2 separate regions of the Homo sapiens genome follow, and region 1 is linked to region 2. The links come from fine-mapping of genetic effects on plasma protein levels. Region 2 holds a variant in brackets. A gene starts in the other region. All regions are shown on their reverse strands. Region 1 holds the start of GKN1 (gastrokine 1). Region 2 overlaps MUC5AC (mucin 5AC, oligomeric mucus/gel-forming).

The links. PIP is the posterior inclusion probability: the model's chance that the variant is causal. The UK Biobank Pharma Proteomics Project read protein levels with antibody pairs (Olink). The fine-mapping took linkage between variants from a reference panel, not from the people measured, so its PIPs are less certain.
Region 1: GKN1 starts here. The variant in region 2 is fine-mapped to the plasma level of the GKN1 protein (UK Biobank, PIP above 0.99).

Annotation. Positions count from the first base shown.
Region 1 is chr2:68,969,650-68,977,976 of GRCh38, reverse strand. GKN1 (gastrokine 1) reads right to left here and starts at 3,341. Exons shown (of 6, transcript NM_019617.4): 1 at 3,288-3,341; 2 at 429-482; 3 at 203-340. The coding sequence starts at 3,299. RefSeq lists a silencer at 5,619-5,851.
Region 2 is chr11:1,195,665-1,203,991 of GRCh38, reverse strand. MUC5AC (mucin 5AC, oligomeric mucus/gel-forming) reads right to left here. Exons shown (of 49, transcript NM_001304359.2): 37 at 7,938-8,116; 38 at 7,517-7,604; 39 at 7,272-7,375; 40 at 7,084-7,115; 41 at 6,353-6,524; 42 at 5,988-6,089; 43 at 5,687-5,724; 44 at 4,996-5,118; 45 at 4,807-4,905; 46 at 4,502-4,621; 47 at 4,228-4,297; 48 at 4,023-4,137; 49 at 2,854-3,554. The coding sequence ends at 3,290. Among named protein-coding and RNA genes, the nearest start is that of MUC5B, 23 kb to the left of the region's middle. RefSeq lists enhancers at 551-1,057, 1,058-1,565. The variant A/G (reference allele first, on the strand shown) is at 3,954.

The sequences.
Region 1 (8,327 bases), not on the chromosome of region 2:
ACTGATCATGCAACACTTATTAACAGTAGTTATCTCTAGGGAACAAAATCGGATGAGCAAAATGGTCACCTTTACTTATAACTGTATGCTATGTGTAATTAGAATTTATTTTTAATTTCTTTATGGTTAACATGCACATTTTTTGTTAAAAAGAAATCGTATTTTTAAACAATAAAGTGAAAATTGCACGTTGACTACCTACATTTCCATAATCCCAGATGGAATTCCAGGAGTCCCATCCGTTGTTATTGTCAACATTGGCCACATTGTGTTCATTGTTGACACTCACTGACTGCTGCCCACTTCCAGCATTGTTGTTGTCATCATTGACGTTGATATTCTGAAGTTTATAAGAGATTGAGAGTGATTTAATATCACATTTCCTTGCAAATGCATTTTGGTAGCAAACTTGAAAAGGTGAGACTTACATAGTTAGCTAGGGCAGGAGCTAGAAAGACTCCAAGAAGTCCAGCAAAGACAATCTGAAATCACAAATAACATTGGTCTCCTGTTACATGGCAAAATGATGTCTTCTTTCTTCCTCTATCCAAGCTTATGAAAAGTATTCACTAATTTTACCAATGTGTTCAGTTCTAGTTCAATGTGTTTTTTTCTTCTCTTACCTTGCATTTTTTAACCATAAAGGTTTTAACGATAATGTGAAATTGCTGATTAATTATAAGTAATTATATTAATGTGATATATAGTTTTAGAATTTTTAGTGTAGGCCTTATGAAACGCTGGAAAAATTGATGAAGAAGGGAAGTTGAGAGCCAGGAAAGCTGCTTTCATCTCATTGCCATCCAGTACTGAGGAAGAAAATGTAATTTTCAAGTAGTGATAAATCAAATTATTGAATCAAATCCCTTTTAAAGTAAAACCCAGAATGTACCATCTTGTTTCTCTTCAGTTTAATAAGTGGTATCATAAAGATGACTTTGCTAAGATAATACTTCTGGAAATGTCAGAATAGAGTTTAAAAATTTTTAAGATTGGTCAAAATATTAACTTTATAATAAAACATATACTTGGCAAATGAATTTCCTATAAATTATCATTGGTCAGAATGCTGTTTTGTTGAATTATATTATGTAATATAAACCATAGGTGTTATTAGAAAGTAGAGAACTGCCTTTCTTATTTAGAGCTTTCAAGGACTTGCTATAAATGATTATTTTTAAAATGCTTTATAAATCTTCATGATTTTTCTATTTTGGATAAACTCAGCTATAGTTAATGACAGCATCCTACCTTGAGTAGATATTTGGATTATTTAAATCTAGTAAAAGAAGAAAGTTATACTTCTTCGAGTATTAAGAGATAGGAGTAAAGATTCACTTTTAAGTTATTGAAAATATGTGTATCCTCCTAAATATTAACAAAAATGATTTGGGATAACTGACATGGCTTGGTTATTCAGCTTAAATTTGTACTGTGGCTTATGTTACACAGGTTGTTGATGCTCACCTCTCACTCACTTGTTTCTAATTGTTTTATAAGGTTTAAAATTCTCTCTTTAGAGAAATTCAGAAAATTCACCTGGCACATATTTTGACCTCCTAGGTAACATATTTGTACCAGTATTGAATTTTGGTCAGTGCCCCAATATAAGAAAGTTACTGTTTTAAAATAAAGCAAACTATCTTATTTTCCTTGGAAAAAAAAAGAAGTTTTACAATAAATAGCATAGTATAAATGAATACTATGGTTTGAGATGGCTATAAGTGCTAAAAATCACATCTGAAAATGATTTCAGTTAATTTTCCTATTTAACATGGGATGTTTTCTTCCTAATAGAAATAATCTTTTTATTAAAAAAAACTTTCCAAAGCAATGGATTAGTAGGCAGTTTGGATGCCAATGATGAGAAAGCAAGTATAGAGTGTCTCGCTGGCAAGAGTGATCAGCAGAGGCGATGTCACTAGCAGTGTCCCAGGATACTTGGTTTAATTATTTATCACAGGGTCCCTGACATTGGTTTTCAGAGCACAGAGCTTTATGCAGGGTGCCTCATTCTGGGTACCTAGTCTCATTTCCTTTGCCTGGGACAAAATAGTTTTGAGAACTGCTCTAGAGATTCAAGGTAACTTTTGAAAAAAAATTAAATTTTTCTCCCAATAGCTTAAAAAGGAGTTAAAAATTAGTCTCCTAAAAAGTCAGAGGTAGAAGAAATTTTAGAGAACACCTAGTACAATGCAATCATTTTACAGATAAGGTAACTGAGCTTCAGGGGTTAAGTGAGTTGGCCAAACTTATACCTCTTGTTCACAGCAGAACTAGGAGAGAAATCAAATCTAACCTGTGTCTGGAGCTCCCTCTGACCCTTTTAAACTTTGCTGCTATTAAGAGGACCTAGTTCTAGGTAGTCATTTTACATTTGCAGCCCCATTATAAAGTAGAGTCTGCCGTAACGTTTTCCAGTGTGTAGTATGTTGAAACATGAAAATAGTCATCTGATTCTAGCCCCTTTGCATCGTGTTGTGAGAAACCCGGCACTACTAGTTACTTTGGCAGGGTTTCTCGGTCCACCTCCTCCTAGACTCTCAGGCTTCTGTCTGGAACCACAGGAGAGATGCTGTGGTAGCTTCATGTTTCAGATGCTTTCTTAAATAAATGGCCATGCTAGAGCCCAAGGCAAATCTTTCTTTCTTGGAGACCCATTTTACTGTAACAAATGTGACAAGAAGTCTATCTCAGCCACTTATTTTGATAATAAGCTTTTCATCTTTCCTGAACATGCTCAGGAATTTTGGTAAATAAAAGGAGGAATTCAAGAATGAGGGATGATCGGCACTTTCTAGGGCTTAGGAACTGCTTACCCTGCATGGAGACCGGAATCAGGTGATGCGGAAAGTCATTTTGTTAAAAATAGGTCAGTGTGAGGTGCTCAGACAGCTGTCTAATCTCAGCACAATTATCCTTCTCTATAGAGATGCTTATAAATGCCATGATTATATAAATAGAAAAAAGATTTTTTTTCATTATTTCTTCTTCTAAAAAAAAGGGATACATGTGCAGAACGTGCAGGTTTGTTACATAGGTATATGTGTGCCATGGTGGTTTGCTGCCCCTATTGACCTGTCCTCTAAGTTCCCTCCCCTCACTCTCCACCCCCCAACAGGACCTAGTGTGTGTTGTTCCCCTCTCTGTGTCCATGTGTTTGAAGAGAGAATTTTTTTAAAACAAATTTTCCATGATGGGGCCATAAGAAGCAGACCTCCTAAATCTCAGAATATTGACAGTCTCCAATCATTTGGTGGTAAATTCAAAAGGAAAAATCTACTCACTGTGAACTTCATCTTGTCTTCACGAAAGCAGTGGACAGAGGAGTAGGCAAGCATGGACCTGAATGAGAAGCCTTCTCATATTTGTACTTAACCAGGTTGACTCAAACTAGGTGTTATCAGGTGGGGTCAAAGACTTACCTTCCTCAATTTCTCCTATCTGTGCCATGAGCCAGTGTACCAGGAAACCTTTCAGAATATCTGCATGCTTAGCAAGGAACTTTCACATGGAGTTGACCTGACTCATCACTTGTTGAAGCTGAAGGTATCACAACAAACTCAATATGATTTATGATAACTTCTCACCCAGTCAAAGCTGTGGGCGTGAGTATTTTACACGCTAACATTGCTCAGATTCAGAAAAAGAATAATCCCTAAAATCAAACAAAATCACAGCTGAAAAGCCACGTGTATACTAGGCCTTCCAGATAGCAGCTCCTATAGGAATGTAGGAATGGTTTCCACTTCTTAACTTTTATCTGAGCCCATGGCAATGGTTTTGCTTAGACTAAACATGTTTTGTGAGCAACTCCCACCAAACCTACCCCTTTTCTGCAATGTTGAGCTCACTTAATGATAGCACCATATATCTGGTACAGCCCTTTCTTCTCAGTCTGACATCTACTTAGTTACTGTCATTTTATCTCTGAAATGCCTCTCAACTCTGACCTTGCCCACAGCTCCCCTCACCTGGACTTTCACAACAGTCATGCAATTGATCACTCTGGTCACCAGTTTCTTATATTCCAATGCATTTTCTTCATTAACCCTGAGGTTGTCTTTCTGAAGTGCATAGATAGACATGACTCTATCACGCTTGGAAATTTCGCTGGCAGCCTACAGAAAATTCAAAGTCATTGGAATGGCATCCAGGGTCCTATGTAATAAGATTTCCAAAGGCTTCCCGTCTGCCACTTTATGCTATGTACCTACATTCTAGCTCCACCAGCGTTCCCACCATTCCTGGAAAAGTCAAGATGTGTATGTCTCCATGCCTTTGTACATGCTGTTGTTTTATCTTGGAGGGCCACCCGCTAGCCTCTCGCTTGGTAGACTCCTGTTCATTGTTCAAGGCTCAGCTCAAATATCACTGCCTCCATCACATCTCCCCCATCTGATAGATAGAACTTTCCTAGTGTTTGTTTTTTCCTTCTGGGAACTATAAAAGCAATATCTTTTTATTTGCTTCTAGATAATTTAGTTTTCAGAAGTTACATTAAAATAATAAAAAATATTTTCATCAAAAGCAGAGAGTAGAAACTATCAATTGGGCAGACAAGTAAAAGCTCAAAACAGGTTTGGAGGTGAGTTGGTTTTAATTTTTTTCCTGCTTTTTCCTATACAGTGAAGCTAGTAAATTAAATTTGCCAAGGAGGAAAACTGTATTTCATTAACTACCAATCTATAAATTTTCCCTTTGGAAACTTCGTGCCCACAATTTTCCTCCTGTGCATGGATTGAAACCATAAGATGGGATCACATGGTTATAAAGCTTGATTCGCTATCAACATCTCTTCAAAACTGTTGGTAGGAGTGGATTAGAACAGCTGCAGTATTACTGGATATTTTTTAATGTGTCCACTGATTTCTTTCAAACTCACTCTTTATCCACAGAAGGTAATAAGCCTGGAGTAAGGGGCAGACATGTGTGAAGAGGCCTTCATCTGCTTTAGGAAACTTCATGTCACTGAGAAGTCAATGAGTGGGTAGCATGGTCTCTACGTTTAAACTCAGCCACCAGTAGTCATCTTGGTACACAGGTGCAGTGCCCAGCACACATTTTGCATGTCATACCAAGGACAAGGGCCTGAAGTTCTGCAGTGGACCTGTGAAATGCTGGTCTGGAAGATGTTCCATGACAGACAGACAGACAGATAGATAGATAGATAGATAGATAGATAGATAGATAGATACATACATACATACATACATACATACATACACACGTATACACACATAGATACACACACATACATAGATACATAGGTAGAGTTCCGGGTCCAATAATCCCCCCTTTAGAGACTGACAATTCACATTCACACATCAAATGGGCTAAGAAATTTATAGGGGAAAAATCTCTGTTTCATCCAGGTTCTTCTCATCTTAGTTGACTACAGAACCTGATCGTTTTCCCTTTTTCTTTTATTTATTTGTCCTAACATCTCATAACAACTCTGGGGACCCCTGCCTTAGTGAAAAAATTGTGCCACCTCTGAGGATGCACCCTGGATTTGAAAACCCATTTGGGGAGCTACTGGATGAAGCTGGGAGCCAGGAGACCTAGATTCTATTTTCCCATCTTTCAATGAGTCATTTATTTTTTTGGTTTAGGCCTTAGGTTTCTTGTGGGTAAAAGAGAAGAAATTCCTCCTTTATACAATATTTGTTACTTCAATGGCTCTACAACCAGAAAAACTTCTTTTTCTGTACTTTGTGTGGTGTGGGAGGTTGGGGGAGAGGGAGTGTGGGGGTCAAGGTGGGGGTCAACCCTCACCTCAATCCTGGTCTCATCCAAGGCCAAAAGTCCTAATGAAGCATGAGCAAGACTTTTGCCCTGAGAACTGTGTTTTATGTTTCATTCTTCCCTTGAAGAAGAATGTCTTCCCAGGAAGACAGAACATACCAATGTTTTTGGTCACCTCCATAGAATCTAAAATATGCAGACACATATATGGTGCTCAGTAGGCCCCTTGTAAAAATTTTACTTGCGTAAAGGAGATGTTAAGCTACAGGATAAAAAGTGCGTTATATTTAGTCATTTCTGGTTTTGGTGCCAGCCTGAGAGGGGCTGCCCTACACTGGCTGTGATGACACATTGAGGGAGTCTCAGTTGATGGTGTGACCTCTGTGGCTTGGGGTTAGTGTGGAACAAATCAGCCCATGGGTAAATAGAGCCTGCCCTGCCTACAGAGATTGATGCTGGGCCATGCCAAGAAACAAGCCCCTATCGTCATTTTATCTCACAATGCACACACACCCAAGGCTTCATTCTACTCCACACCCTGTGTTGTGCTCAGTGGAAACTCCCTCCGTGTGGAGCAGACGGGATGCATCCCATGTGCAATATGCTCCTGTGTGCAACTGGAGGGAGGCCTGCAAAGGACTAAACTGCTCATTTAAAGATGTCAATCAGATCCCAAATGGTTGGAACCAAAGTGCTTTCCCACAGAAATCAGACTTTTCACATTCCTTCTTGTTCTCTGAGTGGAAGGGAATGTTTGCCTATAGGGTACATTTTAATCATTAAATATTCTCATTCAAGATTCCGTCTCTGCACAGACCTGTTAATGGGCTGACCTAGAGGTTATTAATACCTATGAAGCCCTTAGTAACCTTGGCTTCCTTTTCATTCTTGCTCTCCATTTTCTGATAGTTAGGACTCAACTGGCCTTAGTCCATTTGCCTGCAAATGATAATTTATTTGTTTGAGTGTGGAAGTCCCTTCATGCAGACTCTATTTCAGTCTCCTTGCCTTTACTTTTGTCTTTCTGAGCAAACTGCACACCAGTCTGATGGTCCTTTTGATGGTCCCCAGTCAAGTGGTTCATTATGAGGTCTGAATACACTTCGCTGTGGAGAAATTTCTGCCCCTCTCTGGTCTTGATTTCCCAGCCTGTAGCTAAGACTCTCATGATGGTTCCGGTGACTACAGCCTTGGTGCTTGCAGCAGTGACACACCCTTATCAAAGCCTCCATATGTACTTATGGCTAGGAATGACACGTCTAAAAAATAGCGATAGAAACATGTAAAATAACGTTTTAATAGTTATTGCTAGAGGAGCTTCAAGTTCCAGAAAATCCAAACTTAATACATAATTATTTTTATATAGGGGAGAAATTCTTTTCGAGTTACAGCAGAGTGGAGGGAGCACTTTGCATTACTGAGCAGATATTTTTGTTGTTTCCTCTGGGACCGTTGCCTTCCAAAATACATATAACTCTGGCTTTCTCTGGCTGTTTGTATGTCTGTTCAATTGCGTTTGCCAAAACTTCTGGATCCCCTCAGAGGCAGGCAGTGATATATTATGCCTAAGATTAGTTGTTACCTTGAGTGATAGAGTAATATAAATGGGGTTTGGAAAAATCTTGCAAAAAGAAGATCTCCTGAGTAATTGCATCATGTGTATGAAATATATGAAAGTAGAGGTAAAGACAACGCTGACCAATAACTTCATGTTTATCATCGTGAAGGACAATCAAGCCTGGTTAAACAATTCGTTCTGAAAAAGATTTAAAGAAAGTATGCCCATATGAGGAATAGAAATCATAAAGTGATAGCAACATGTTGCTTTATAATTATGTCCTGGCTAATCCAGAAATAATAACACTATACTTTGTTCAGTGTTCAAATTGAAGCGGTTTAGAGATAATGTTGTAAAAGCACTCATACTGATGGTGTGTTAATTAAATAACAGCAGTCAGGCTGGGAAATGACTAAACTGCTTATTAAAAGATGAGAATAAGATCCCAAATGGTTGGAACCAAAGTGCTAGCGCTGGCAGAGCGGTGCCTAGAGCCAGGGCCTTGCGAGGACCCCAGGCCACCACACCATGGCTTCCCTGGCAGAAGAGGCCAAAGTAAAGGACTTGCCCTAAGGCCAGTGAACAATGAAGCACAGTTTTGTAAATCATCGAGTTTTCTGTAGGGTGACCGGTCAGAATTGGTTTCCTTTTCTATGTCTTACATAGAACACAATACACACATATGCAATCTTTTCACTTCTGAAAGAACACATCTTCAGATGGTGACATTGGATCCTCAAGGGTGCCTCAGAGAATTTTGAGTTTCCATGTTTATTCAATTATGCTCTCTCCCTACCTACATTCCTAGTCTGTAATTCCTGGAAATGCTTAATAAAACGTATCCATCAGGATTCATTCTGGAGTGTGCTTTTCCTTCAGAGGTCCCACTGGATTTGAATAAAAACCTCTCATCCATGCCAGGAAAGTTCTATCATTTGCTTGCTCAGAAATGGGTCACTGGGCCTACAACCCCCTACTCATTTTCTCTTATTGAAAAATAGCCCATTAATAGCAATGCATC
Region 2 (8,327 bases):
GGCCACTCTGCCGTGTTCCAGGCAGGGAGCGCCGGGCAGGAGGCCGTGGGGCCAAGCTCACCCCAGGGGGTGGGGGATTAGTCAGCCGTTCCCACCCTACCCTGAGAGGAATTGGCAGCTTTCTAGGATACCTGATCCACCCCGGGCACACTGGTGCTGGTTAGGGTGCCCTGCGGCTGTGAGGTCAGGTGGTCAGCAGAGCGCTGGAGCCGACGGGTCTTAGAGCGGGAGTTCCCGGGCTGTGCTTCCGCCTGGCCGCCAAGAGGACATGGGTCGAGGCTGGGGAGCCTCCTCTGCCCCACCTGCTCACCCCAGCAGTCAGGCTCGGAGGCAGCCCCACTGCCCAGGTGTCTGGGAGCACACAGTGGGCCAGGGTGGGCAGGCAGTTGGAGAACTGGACCTGGGGGGTCCTGGGCACCCCAGCCCTGAGACCTGTCAAAGCAACCCCCAGATGTGAGCCAACGCTGGAGCCACGGAGGCCTCACTGCCTGCCATTGGGTCAAAAATCCTGGTGCAGGGACTGGGCCGGCCTTGCCTTCTGACCTCCCAGTGCCTGCAGACGTGGCTTGAGGGCAAGAGGGACTCTGGGACTGGCCGGGCCTCCTCACAGGGCCAGGCACACAGTAGCGGGAGGGGCCGCGGCCCTCCGGCCCAGCCCAAGCCCTCCAGGCTGCCATGTGCCTGTAAGCCGTGAGGGGTGTCCTCAGCCTCCCAGGGCCATGGGCAGGCCGTGAGGGATGTGGGCTGAGACCCGGGACTCCCCTGGCTCTGCGGTGCCTGGAGCCCAGGCCTGAGCCGACGGGTGCCGGGCCTGACTGTGCTGCCACCTCGTGGCAGCTGCAGGGAGCGCGGCTGCACGCCTGAGAATGGAAGGTCGGTTCCCCAGACCCCACCCCGCCGGGCCTGGCACCTGAAAAGGAGGCTGGGGGAGGTTGGAGCAATGGGCGCGGCCGAAGTCCAGGAGGGCTGGGAAAAGCGCCCACCCAGACAGGCACATGAGGCTGGGCCCCTACGTCCACCTTGCTGATGGAGAATCCCCCTGCCGGCCCCTCAGCTACTCCACACCACGCCCAGGGTACACAGGTCCCTGAGACCCTCTCTGGCCCAGAGGGACACTGGGGCCACCTGAAGCTGTGGGAGGCCCGGGCAGGACCCTGAGCCCCAGAAAGTCACCAGGGAGCTGGTGCCTGCCACGTCACCGCCTCCACTCTGGGCGCAGCTTCCCACCCACCTGTCCCACCATCAGGCGTGGGGGGCTCCAGATGTTCCTGGGCCTTCCTGTGTGGGCCACAGGCCTGGCCAGGGCCGACCACAGCCCTCCCTGTCTTTCCCCCGCCCTGCGCTGGCCCTGTCTAGGCAGTGGGCTCCCCAGCCCCACCCGGCTCAGCCTGGGCTCCTCCAGACCCCTCTGCCCACTCCTGGGATGCCGGGTCAGTGCCGCCCACTCTACTGGTGCTGCTATGTGGCTGAGGCAGGGCCCAGCCCGAGGCCGGTGTGTCCAAGGGAATCTGCAGACTCCCTGGAGCCCTCCAAGAGGAGAACACTGGGCATCAGGAACATGGAGGCTCCGGGGAGGGGTGGCGGTGGTCAGAGAGGACTAAGAGAGTGACAAGCTTCCAGGGCCCAGCCCACCCTCTGCAGAGCATCCAGCAGACGCTCCGTGGGGTTGCCGACCTCCCGCTTGCCTGCAGATACACTCAGGAGTGTGCACAGCCCAAGCTCAGCCCCAGTAACGGCGAGTCTAGGAGCTGCACAGAGCTGGAACCCCCCATCCCAGAACGCCTCCATCACCAGGGGCAGCCCTCCCATGTCAGAGGCCCTTGCCTGGGCCATGAGGTGCCCTGGATGCCTGGGCTGGTCCCATTCCCTGCTGACTCCCTCCCTCACGCATTCATTCATCACTCATTCACTCATTCACTCACTCATTCACTTATTCACTCACTCATTCACTCGCTCATTCACTCATTCACTCACTCATTCACTCATTCACTTATTCACTCATTCACTCATTCTCTCACTCATTCGCTCATTCACTTACCCATTCGCTCACTCACTCATTCACTTGTTCATTCACCCACTCATTTACTCATTCATTTATTCACTCACTCATTTGCTCACTCATTCACTCATTCACTCATTCACTTGTTCATTCACCCACTCATTTACTCATTCATTTATTCACTCACTTGCTCACTCATTCACTCATTCATTCACTCATTCACTCAATCTCTCACTCACATACTTATTCACTCACATGCACTCATTCACTCACACATTCACTTATTCACTCACTCATGCACTCACTTATTCACTCACATGCACTCATTCACTCACACATTCACTTATTCATTCACTCATGCATTCACTTATTCACTCACTCATTCACTTATTTGCTCACTCATTCACTCATTCATTCACTCATTCACTCAGTCACTCACTTATTCACTCACATTCATTCACTCACATTCACTCACTCACATGCACTCACTCACACATTCACTTATTCATTCACTCACTCATGCACTCACTTATTCACTCACCCATTTATTCACTCATTCATTCTCTCACTCTCATTCACTCACTCTCTGTGTTCTGAACAGATGCATCCTGGACTCTAGACTGCAGCCAAGCCCTCAAAGACCTCTGCAGGGTGGTGGTCTCTTCTTGGGGCAGATCCAAGCTCTGGCCTCTCCTCTCTGAGCAGAGAGACACTGTCCCAGCCAGCCCACAGAAGCAGCAGGGCTGCCCAGTACTGGGTGGCTGGCCTGAGGTGTGCACCCCACAGGGCCCGGGTTTGCCCCCACCCTATTCCTGGATTTTATGAACAATCTCAAAAAATGCACAGTCCACAAATTGCAAAATGCTCAAGTGTATTTATGCAACAGATTGGCCGTGTACTGAGGAGGGGAGCGCAGGCTGAGGGCTGAGGTAGGAGTGAGGTTCTTCCTCCTGCAGCCACCAGGCAGCTGATCACCATGTCCAAGCGTCATTCCTGAGACCCTCAGGTGATGCTCACGTCCCCAGAACAGCAGGCTGGATGCATGGCCAGAGGAGCTCGGCCAGCCCCGGGGCTGGTCCTGAGAGGTGGCTGCAGGCGGGGTGGGTAAGGGCCCCTCCTCCAGGCAGCAGGTGACCCATAGCCCACACCCTCCACAAGAAAGCGGGCGTGGACAGTGTGTTCAAAGCTGCAGCCGCCTGGACAGGGGCACAAGTTCCACTGGCCTTGGAAGCCGAGCTCAGAGGACATATGGGAGGTTCTCCTTGGAGGTCAGGAGGGCGGCAGTGCTGGTCAGTGCATGGGGGACACTGGGACGCCTCTCTCCCAGCTCCCACTCTCTGCCTCCTGGCTGGGCTCGGGTTCCGCCTCCTCCGAGTGCTGGGTGTCGCCCGGCGCAGGGCACCGCCGGCCCATGCAGCCGCACTCTTCCACCTCGGTGTAGCTGAAGGCCCGGCTGGAGCCGTCGGTGCAGTGCAGGGTCACATTCCTCAGCGAGGTCCGCAGCTCCTGGCAGCACTGGCACCTGTGCTCCACCGTGTTGCCCTCGAGCGAGTACCTGTGGGCAGGGGCTGCTCAGCACCAGCTGCTGCGCCACCCCAGCCTCCTGCCGTAAGCCGGCGCCGTGCCGAGCTCTGGGCGGCCTCATCGTGTTCCCTGCTCCTGGAGGCATGCTGCCAGTGTCTGACAACCAGCTCTCCTTTGCCAGTTCCCCAGGCGCCAACAGTCCCACCAGGGCCGACCCCGGCTCCGTGCTGATGGGAGGGAGGGAGACTCGGGGCGGCTGCGGCAAGTTCCTGGCGGAGCTCAGTAAACAGGAGAGCGTGATGCCGACACAGGCTCTGGGGATGTAGTTACCCCAGCCCCACCCTTGCCATCTCAGGACCCCTTTCCCGCCTCACCCTCAGAGCCCTTTGCCTGGCCCCTCATGGTCCTGCCCCTCGTCTATCTGGCACCT[A/G]GAGCCCTGGGGGCCCTGACTGCACCCCACAGCCAATCGCGTCTCCCTGCCTGCTGCCCAGGCACGTACATGGAAGAGCTGTCCCCACAGTTCCCCCGGCAGTAAGCCAGGCGCACGGGCTCCGAGGAGCTGCAGCCCTGCTGCTGGATGATCAGGCTCCTATGGTACACAGCACAGGTCGACTCTGGAGAGGAACACAGGGTTTAGGACCAGCCCAGCTGCTCCTAGACCTCTGAGGGTGGAGCCCGCCCCGCCCAGCAGGCTGGGTACTCACGGTTCTGGTACGGGGGCGGGGGCGGCGGGCAGAAGCGGCAGCAGCCGTCCTTGCTCATGCGGGCCTCGTCCTGTGCCGACAGAGGGGCGCCCTCAGTGCCGAGGCGCTCGGCGGCCCCCACAGAAGTGAGGGATGGGGACATGGGGCCAGGCTCAGGAGTGGACAGCCCCAAGCAGGAGGGGGTGTCTGCTGGCGCTGCAGGGATGATCACAGCCCCCCAAACCCATCTAGGGGTGAAGCCCCCCTTGGCTGGAGCGGGGATCCTGGACCTCACCAGAGAACAGCTGAGCGGGGGGCACGCCTTCTTCGTGGTGACCACCACGAGCCCATCCTGGTGCTTCTCACACTGGTGGGTCACACAGTGGTTCCCTGCGTCTGACCAGGTCTCGCCGGGCTGGAGGGAGGCCAGGCCCCGGGGTGAGTGACCCTCCCTCCGTCTGTCCCTCTGTCTGCACCCCAGCCCGTGGGCTTCCAGAGAGTCCCCAGCCTCTGCCAGACGCATGCCTGGCAACGACAGGTCCCCACATGCCCCAGTGCTCCCAGACCCTGCCCTTCCTCTTTGTGGCAGCCACTACTCACGTAGAAGAGGTGGGCGGGGCTCTTGCTGGTGTTGGTGACACAGGCGACCTGCACACAGGTGCCACAGCACTGCCCGCTCTGCTCCTGGTACTCGAAGCCCTGCGGGAGGGATGGACATGTGGCTGGAATCCAGGCGACCGCTGCCCCCCAAGAGCCAGGGCAGGGTCGGGGCAGGGTGGGAGCGCTCACCACAGGGCAGTGTGTGTTGCAGATCTGGGTCTCACAGCTGACCACAAACGCGTCCGATGGGGGGCCACCCGGCAGCTCACACCTGCAGGTTTCGCACAGGCTCGAGGAGACCACGGCGCCGGGCTGGGGAGAGCCAGGGCAGCAGACACTCATGAGCTTGGGCCCTGGGGAGACCCGCCCCTGCCTCCCCACTGGCTTGCTGCCCCCAACTTCCCAGACATCCCCCTCCAGGCCGCTTCCTACCAGGCCGAGTTGCACCCCTGGGGTGACTCGTGGTGGCACCTCTTGGTGCAGAGGCCACAGCCCAGGGTCCCCATCCCTAGAGCAGAGCCCCACGCTGCACCCCCTTGGATGGGGTGCCCAACAAGGCCACACACTCTGCAGGGCCACATACTCAGCCGGCTCAGGACAGAGCCGTGGGATCCAGGCCTGGCTGTGCTGTGGTGCCAGGAGAGGCAAAGTCCCCCGGAGCCCCCCGGAGCCAGGCAGGCCAGGGTGTAGATGTCCATATTTCCGGGACCTGGGGCCGACCTCGGGCCTCAGCCACACTTGATAGTGGGCTGTGTCTGCAGAGACTCGAGTCCCTGGCCTCGGCCGGAGTTGGCAGTTGCTCCAAAGTCTACCTGGGCCTCAGGGTCAGTGGGAAGCTCCGTCCCTATGGCTGAGGGGGTCTGAGCTCCGTGGCTCTTACCTGGTACAGGGTCCCGTTGATGCTGCACACTGTCCAGCCTGCCCACGAGAAGACAAGCAGCTGCACCCCCCGCCGCCCACTCTCCCCTCACCCTCAGCATTCCCGCCCCTGCAGCCTCCTGGGCGCCTCATTCCCGGGCTCGCCACTGGGGTTTGTCCAGCCTCATCTCTGCGGAAGGCTCAGTCCAGAGCCACAGACCCGCAGTGGACAAGCCGCACTGGCATCTGGTTATGGCCCCCCAAAATCCCAGGTGGAGACCCCAGCCCACGGCCCCTGACAGGGCCTGGTCCAGGCCACTCACTGCAGTTTTGGACTGGGCAGCAGGCCCCCTCCTGGTAGGTCGGGATCGCGCGGGCGCCCTCAGGACAGCCCACGGGCGCGGGGCAGCGGCTGGTGTTGCAGGCTGCGGGGGCGGGAGTGAGGCAATTAGGAGTCTGTCCCCCGCCCCCACCCGAAGGCCCACCCCCTGGGGTCTCTAGGATTGCGGACCGCCTAGACAGCCCGCTCGGGGGTCTCCAGATGAGGCTGTTGCGGAAGCGGAGGAGGGGACGCCCTCGTAGGCACTGTCCCCAGGTGCACGCCCCAAGGCAGCAGCAAAGTCCGGGCCGAGTGGGCTCCGGGTCACCTGCCTGCCACACCATGCCCCTCACCCAGCAAAGGGCTTACCGCAGCTGTACTGGGGGCAGCACTGGCCGGCCTGTGGGGCTGCAGGCACAGGCACGAAGCCGGGCAGGGGGCAGGCAGGGGGCAGCGGGCAGAGCTTGGGTCGGCAGGTCAGCGTCCACGTGGCCGCCTCACACGTGCACTCCTGGCAGTCCATGCCGACGGTGTGGCCCACCTGCAAGGAAGGGGACTGAGGTCCAGCGTCCGCAGCGGCTCCACCCAGGGGTGCAGCAGCCACCCCGGCTCATGCAGTGCCGGGGCAGCCAGGTGTGGAGGCCGTGTGGCCTGCACTGAGGACCCAGCAGGAGTAGGGCTTCAAAAGTGCAGGGTAGGGCCCAGGGATGGGCACAAAGCTCTGCAAGGTGGGCAGGCTGTGGGGTGACTGGCCTGCGCCCCCCACCTCACACCTCCACAGTCTTGGCTGGGCAGAAGGGGCGTCCCAAGGAAGGGAAGAGCACAGCCAGCCTCGGGGCCAGCACCCACCCACAGAGCAACACCAGGACAGACGCCCCGGCACCGTCCCCAATACGGACAGAGTGGGTACCTGGGAAGGGAGATCCCGAGTCTTTCTGGGAGCCCGGCTCCTCCCGCAGCCCTTTCTCTGGGCCTCTGACACAGAGAGGACACCCCGACCCCTGAGCCCCACCTGACCATTTCTGGGGCCGGTGTTTCAAGAGCCTCCCTCCTCGGGCTCTTGGACCCCAGTGCCCTCTTGGGCCATGCCTTCCACTCACCTTCACCGGCTCTCCGTGGGGCCCCAGACACCCTGGAAGGAGAGAGATCTGAGGTTACTGGGGGTCAGCCACCACAATAGGGGCGAGAGGCAGGGTCCCATATTGGGGCCAGGGTAGACCCCAGGACCTGGCCAACAGTCACAGGCCCAGTCCTGCCACACCCCCCAGCCCCGGCCTGGGGCACGTACTGGGGCAGCCCGTGGGCACGCAGACTTGGGCACTGGTGCTGAAGAGGGTCATGCCCTCCGGACAGAAGCAGCCTTCGGTGATGGGGCCGGCCTCCGGCAGAGCCCTGTAGAGAGCATAGGGTTGGTGGGTCTCCTTTTTCCCTCCGGTGAGAAGGACCCCAGCCTGGGAGTGGGAGATGCAGCGGGAGGCTGGGGACTGGGTGGCTCCAGCAGCCCATGGCAGGGCCAGGAGGGAGGGTGCCTACCCGAGGCTGGCGCTGTCATTCCCGTAGCAGTAGGAGGGGTTGCTCGGGCCGCAGGGCTGGTACACCTTGTCGGCTGGGCAGGTGAATGCTGTGGGGAGGGGAAGCCACACCTGAGAGGGTGGGAGGGCACCCACCCAGAGCAACGCGGGCCGCTGGGCACCAACATCTGCTCCGGAGCTGCCCGCAGCCACCTGTGGGCCTGGGCCTGGCTACGGCCTCCCACACCCCAGTGCCCCGCCACGGGCTCCCAGACGTGGACGCCCTCCCTTCTCTCCAGGGAACTGGGTGCACTCTGCCCTGGGGCTGCCCCCTCCTCCTCCAGGTCCCCCCCTGACTGCCCGAGCCCACCCTGTTGGTCCGTCCGGCGTGCCTGTGCCCCTCACAAGCGACTTGGGACCCTGAGGACAGTGGTGGCACTCACGGCACATGTGGCCGGTCCGGCCTCTCCAATCGATGCAGATGTCGTGGGACGCACAGAGTGCCGCGTACAGCTCCAGGCTGGAGCACACCACATCCAGGTCCGTCATGTGGCACCGGTCAAAGACGCAGCCCTCATAGAACAGCAGTGGGGGGATCACAGTGTGGCACGGCTCAAAGACCCTGTGGGAGGGATGGGCAGGGTGCTGGGTGCAGCCTCTCCGGCCACCTGCCTGCTCCACGTCAGGCTCCCAGGCTTCAGGGCAGTCTCCAGGCGAGGCGAGTCCCAGAGCAGCCACTGGTGTGTGGCCGCCCTCCTGTATCCCCGGACGGGCTCCTTCCACACATTCTGTGTGCTTGGGGGCGGGGGGTGGGGGTCCAGATGGCATCATCC